Regions from separate parts of the Homo sapiens genome. Here region 2 is linked to region 1. The links come from fine-mapping of genetic effects on gene expression. A gene starts in region 1. The other region holds a variant in brackets. All regions are shown on one strand. Distances are between the middles of the regions.

Region 1 (2,911 bases):
CCACTGGCACTCCCCAGGCAGAGGCAGCTCTGTTCTCTGAAGCCCTCATTGTGCCAGAGCCATATGGGGCCACCGCCGGCCACCTGCCTGCAGGGCCTGACATAGCACTTGAGGGAATTGGCTTTTGGTTTTTCCCACAGAATCCATGAACTCATGGGAGGCTGCGCTGTGAGTCAGAAATGAGAATTAACCCTCCTCTCCATTGCCGGAAGCCCTGTTATTATCCCCCAGCCCCATCTTCCTCATTCCCCGACTTCGCCTCCTCCCCACCTCCTTCAGTCAGAAGTCCTCAACCCGACTCCCTGTGAAGGCCCGTGGGATGGCCTTGGGGGACCTGCACTCTAACACTGGACATGTGCAAATCCTGGGAAGATGCTTACAGTTATCAGCATCCTCTCAAAAGAGGTTCATCACCTGAAAAAGTCAAGGACACTGGCTTCTATAGGATGAGCCAACCAGTTAGGTTGCATCCTCCGGGAAAGGCTCCCAGATAGAGTTATGTGTGCAGAGGGGCTATAGCTGAGTAACTCCTGTGGAGGGGCCAGGGGAGAAGTAAGCCAGCCCCACAGAGAGCTCTGGAGCACAGACCACCCAGGAGAGGAATCCCGTGGTGGGCAGAAATGCCAGGCCTTTGGGCCACTGCCTTGCTCTTATGTGGGCCTGGGCCAGCCCAAGGAGGGCACAGTCCTTTTTGAAAGCTGAAGCTTAGTCTGACGAGCTGTGAGTGGACAGCTGTCAGTAGCCACGCTCCTTGTAGCTGGGCCTGGAATCCTTCCTGGAAGGGGAGTGCGGTGCCTGCTGCATGGCCCTGGGCAGCTGCTGTGCACAGCTGCTGGCGGACCCTCACCAAGGTCCATCAGACCTGCCAAGGCAAACCTGAATCCTATATGTGACTCCATCTAAGCCAAGCTGGGACTCTTCCACTCTTAACTTGGAAAATGTGCATTCCCAGCTGCTAGGTCCTGAACTTGACCTGGGGAAGAGAACGACAAGGCCATGCTTGGGCAGGAGAAGCTAGGTGTAGGCAAGGGAATCTTTACCTTATGAATGGGTTGTATACATGTTGCTTGTTGTTTAGAGAGTGGAATACATTTTGTCCTGGAAATCCTACTATAAATGGGGGGATGCGTACCTGGGCCTTCTTGCAAAAGCCTGTTAAATTCCTAATGATGTTGAAATGGTGGGAAGGGTCATCCAGGGAGGACCTCCACGCCCGCCCATCTCCTCTGGGTTGCCCGGGCAATCCTGCAGGAGCCGAGGCTGGACGCAGCTGACCCCAACAGACAGGAGAAACAAGCCAGCACCACCGGAGAGAACCAGGCTGAAAGGGTGACCCAGGGCTTCCGTGGCCTAGAATGAGAGAGACATCGCATGGCGCAAGGTTCCAAGTAGGGTTCGCGGCGGGGAGGGCCCCTGCCGCAAAGGGACTCAGTGTTGTGCGAGGGAGGTGAAGTCGCTTCTTGATCAGCCGTATTTCTTGCCTACACTTGACACCGTCACCAGCCCAGGCGCCTTTCCGGTCACCCTCACGGAAAGGCTCATCCACGCTGGAAGGAGGGAACCTCCTCGTTAACCTCTAGCATGCCGGTGCCTGCCACCCCAGGGCGCGGGAGCCCGCAGGAGCAGGCGTGTGGACGTCCTGAGAGCTGCCACTAGATGGCGCGTCTGCCCTGCCTACTCAGGAGCCCCGCTCAGGGCACCGGGTGCGGGAGCCCGGCTAATTGCCCTCTAATGAGAAGGCTGCTCCCAAAGTGCCCTCCTCGCAGGGAAAGCCCCAGGCTCCTATCAAAGGGAATGGCTTATTTATCCTCTAACGTGAAGAAACTTCCACACAGCATCAATTAAACACATTAAATGTGACCAGAGTGAGAAAACATCTAAAGGATAGAATATTGAATTGTTGCCACTGACAAATATCAAACCACCCATTCTGGTCTCGGTGGCGTGTACAGTTGACCTTGAACAACACAGGTTTGAACTGTGTGTGTCCAGTTAGAGGTGGACCTTCTTCTGCCTCTGCCACCCCTGAGAAGCGGGACCAACCCCTCCTCTTCCTCCTCCTCCTCAGCCTACTCAGAAGACCACAAGGCTGAAGGCCTTCATGGCGATCCACTTCCACTTAATGAGTAGTCGATATACTTTCTCTTCCTTATGATTTTTTAAATAACAATTTCTTTTCTTTAGCTTACTTTATTGTAAGAATATAGTATATAATACATTAACATACAAAATATGTGTGAATCGACTATTTATGTTATCAATAAGGCTTCCAGTCAACAGTAGGCTATTAGTAGTTCAGTTTGGGGGAGTCAAAAGTTGTATATAGATTTTAAACTGTGTGGGGATTGGCACCCCTAAAGCCTTCATTACTCAAGAGTCAACTGTAGGTGGGCCCTGGGAAGGTTCTCAATTTTTTTTTTTTTTTGAGACAGAGTCTGTTTCTGTCACACAGGCTGGAGTGCGGTGGTATGATTTCAGTTCACTGCAACTTCCGCTTCCAGGATTCAAGCAATTCTCCTGCCTCAGCCTCCGAGAAGCTGTGACTACAGGTGCGTGCCACCATGCCCGGATAATTTTTGTATTTTTAGTGGAGACGGGGTTTCGCCATGTTGGCCAGGCTCGTCTCAAACTCCTGACCTCAAGTGATTCACCAGCCTTGGCCTCCCAAAGTGCTGGAATTAAAGGTGTGAGCCACTGTGCCTGGACGGTTCTCAAATTTTCTGAGATCAGATGGAGTCTGCCCCTCCACCTGGCAGGCTGAAGGCTGGGGCTTGCAGAGATGTGGTGTCTGTTACCCCAGACACTGCAGGTGACCTTGCCTCTTACTAACTTTTCTTATCAGTACCATTTGGACCCTCACACTCATGAGGATGTGGGTGATAATGTGGAGGTTAAATAATATGGTCACTGA
Region 2 (2,911 bases), 40 kb after region 1:
TCATAAACTCATTCATTCATTTATTCATTGGTTTGCCAATATTTGGGGGCACGTATGACGGTCCTCGCATTATCTTAGGTTCCCACAGGGAATTACAGAACATTTTAAACTGTATAACATGGAAGTGCTGGGCACGATGCTAGTATATGAAGATACCAACCTAATTCACATGGCTGTGTGAAGAGGGATGGATGTCATAAAAGATCTTCAAGTAATTTTTCCAGAAGCCAGATGTGTATTTTTTTTAATTTGAGATGGAGTCTCACTCTGTTGCCCAAGCTGGAGTGCAGTGGCATGATCTTGGCTCACTGCAACCTCTACCTCCCGGGTTCAAGCAATTCTCCTGCCTCAACCTCCCAAGTAGCTGGGATTATAAGCATCCACCAGCATACCTGGCTAATTTTTGTATTTTTAGTACAGACAGGCTTTCACCATATTGGCCAGGCTGGTCTTAATTCCTGACCTCAAGTGATCCACCTGCCTCGGCCTCCCAAAGTGCTGGGATTACAGGTATGAGCCACCACACCTGGCCAGGATGTGTATTTTTAATATTATCATTTAGTTTGAGGAAAACAAACTAGTCGTTTGTGGGTATAGAGATAAATCCCCCAAAAGCCATTAACAAAACCCCTCAACTATCAGCTTAAAACATGTCTCTGCATTTTATTTTAAGAAAACACAAACCTGGTCACAAAACATCTTCAGAGAACAGGATAAGTGAAGAAACAAACAAAATGCATGGGAATAGCAAATTTGGGGCCACGGTCATGTTCAAGGGGCGGAGCTGACATGACATCATTTTGTTCCCGGAAAAGCAAGGTTAACTCAAGCTGTGAAGCCCAGATGGCCAATAGATTTACAGCCATCTAAAGAAGAGCAGAATGCTCTCAAGAGCTGAATTATGATGACTTGTAGGTATTGATTAGATGAGAACACCAACCCCATATTCAGCAGAGAGTTAGGGAATGAGAAGTAGAGGGGAGATGGTGGTGGAGATCGTCTTTATGTAGTTTTCAAAGTCACTTCCGAAAAAGAAGATGAGGTAATAGTTGAATATGCCAGCAACGGACATGAGGAACAGGAAGAGTATGATGCGTTTCCCAAATATGTAGCCAGGGGTGCTGGAAGAGAAGGAAAAAGAAAACTGTAGATGCAGTGCGAATGACACCAATTTCACACACACAAAAATGTTACCCCTTTTAGATATATGGGGTTTAAATTATAGCTCCCTGGACTCAACAATGCTCCATTTTCCCATTTACTTCATTTGAAGGGTAGAAGTGTCTCAGCTATTACTAGTCATTGAACTTATTTCAAACCCAAGTGAAGAGAGCCTAGACCTCAAAACCCATTACCACGAGGGCTCTGCTGTACCCGCCCCTCTGTGCTCTCATGATTTCCTTAACTCCAGAGCTCCTTGATGGCCTGAAGATGGCAGGTTCTGTTGACCATTGGGCATCCTCACTGAGCATTAGGACCATTAAGACCCTCTCTGCAGCTGCCCATAACGACAGACACGTGTGTAATGCAGGACTGTGTTAGAAGTGAAGTTTAAATGAGC[C/T]GATAAAACCGGTGGAATCTGAAAGGTGCTTCGGCATCTGAGGGCTCATTCTATTCTCCTGAGGCTGACTGGAATAATTCATATCTACATTCATGAGACCTGGGCACCCAGCAATGGGAGACAGGCCCTTGCATTTTTGAGTGGAGGGAGAGACTTGGTTTTTGTTGTTATTGTTGTTGTTTGTTTCTTTGTTTTTGAGATAGAGTCTCACTCTGTAGCCCAAGCTGGAGTGCAGTGGTGCAATCTCGGCTCACTGCAACCTCAGTCTTCTGGGCTTAAGTGATTCTCATGCCTCAGCCTCCCAAGTAGCTGCAACTACAGGCGCACGCCACCACTCCCAGCTAACTTTTTGTATTTTAGTAGAGATGAGGTTTCGTCATGTTAGCCAGGCTGGTCTTGAACTCCTGAGCTCAGGCAATCCACTCACCTCGGCCTCCCAAAGTGCTGGGATTATAGGCGTAAACCACCATGCCTAGCGGAGACATGTTTTAATATACTCTATCCTTCTCTCCAAGGCACTAAATCCTAAACTGCATCCCCCAGTGAGATGTGACCTCCTAATGGCATGCAGAGGCCACCCTGTTTCTGCCCTCCCTCTGCAGAGCCCTCCTCTGACTGCCTCCATGGCTGGCCCATCTGAGAGGTGATAACAGGTTGGGAAAGTCCAAATGACTCAGGAGGATTGTTAGTAAAGATCCTGGGAAGGCATCTTTAGGCAATCAGGACCGCACAACAAGATGAGCCAGCTCAGCCCAACAGCTAACTTCGTACTGCCAAGTGCCGTTTCCTGCCATAATCAGAGAGCAGCATTTGGCATCCACAGGTTTAATATTAGAAATTTTATCAATTTGAAAGGCACCCCATATGCTGATAATATAACTCATAATTTTTCTTTTTCTTTTCTTTTTTTTTTTTTGAGACTGAGTCAAGCTCTATTGCCCAGCTGGAGTGCAGTGGCACGATCTCAGATCACTGCAACCTCTGCCTCCCGGGTTCAAGCGATTCTCCTGCCTCAGCCTCCTGAGTAGCTGGGATTACAGGCACCTGCCACCACACCTGGCTAATTTTTGTATTTTTGGTAGAGATGGTGTTTCACCATGTTGGCCAGGCTGGTCTCGAACTCCTGACCTCAGGTGATCTGCCCACCTCGGCCTCCCAAAGTGCTGGGATTACAGGCGTGAGCCACCACGCCCAGCCAACTCATAATTTTTCTACAGCAGGAGTCTGAAAGTCACTCAGCCATTATGTATCAAGCTCCTTGCTACTCAAAGTATGGTCCGTGGACCAGCAGCATCAGCCCCCACACTGGAAACTTGTCAGAAATGGGAAATCTCAGGTCCCTCTGGAACC

Evidence for each region. PIP is the estimated chance that this variant, and not a neighbour inherited with it, causes the effect.
Region 2: its variant is the best candidate, but not a certain one, in a credible set for the expression of LINC00398 in whole blood (INTERVAL, PIP 0.56).

What each region holds. Positions count from the first base shown.
Region 1 is chr13:30,801,814-30,804,724 of GRCh38, reverse strand. It overlaps LINC00398 (long intergenic non-protein coding RNA 398), which reads right to left and starts at 1,519. Exons shown (of 2, transcript NR_047012.1): 1 at 1,133-1,519. RefSeq lists a silencer at 1,625-1,744.
Region 2 is chr13:30,762,154-30,765,064 of GRCh38, reverse strand. ALOX5AP (arachidonate 5-lipoxygenase activating protein) reads right to left here. Exons shown (of 5, transcript NM_001629.4): 5 at 639-1,121. The coding sequence ends at 959. Among named protein-coding and RNA genes, the nearest start is that of ALOX5AP, 28 kb to the right of the region's middle. The variant C/T (reference allele first, on the strand shown) is at 1,562.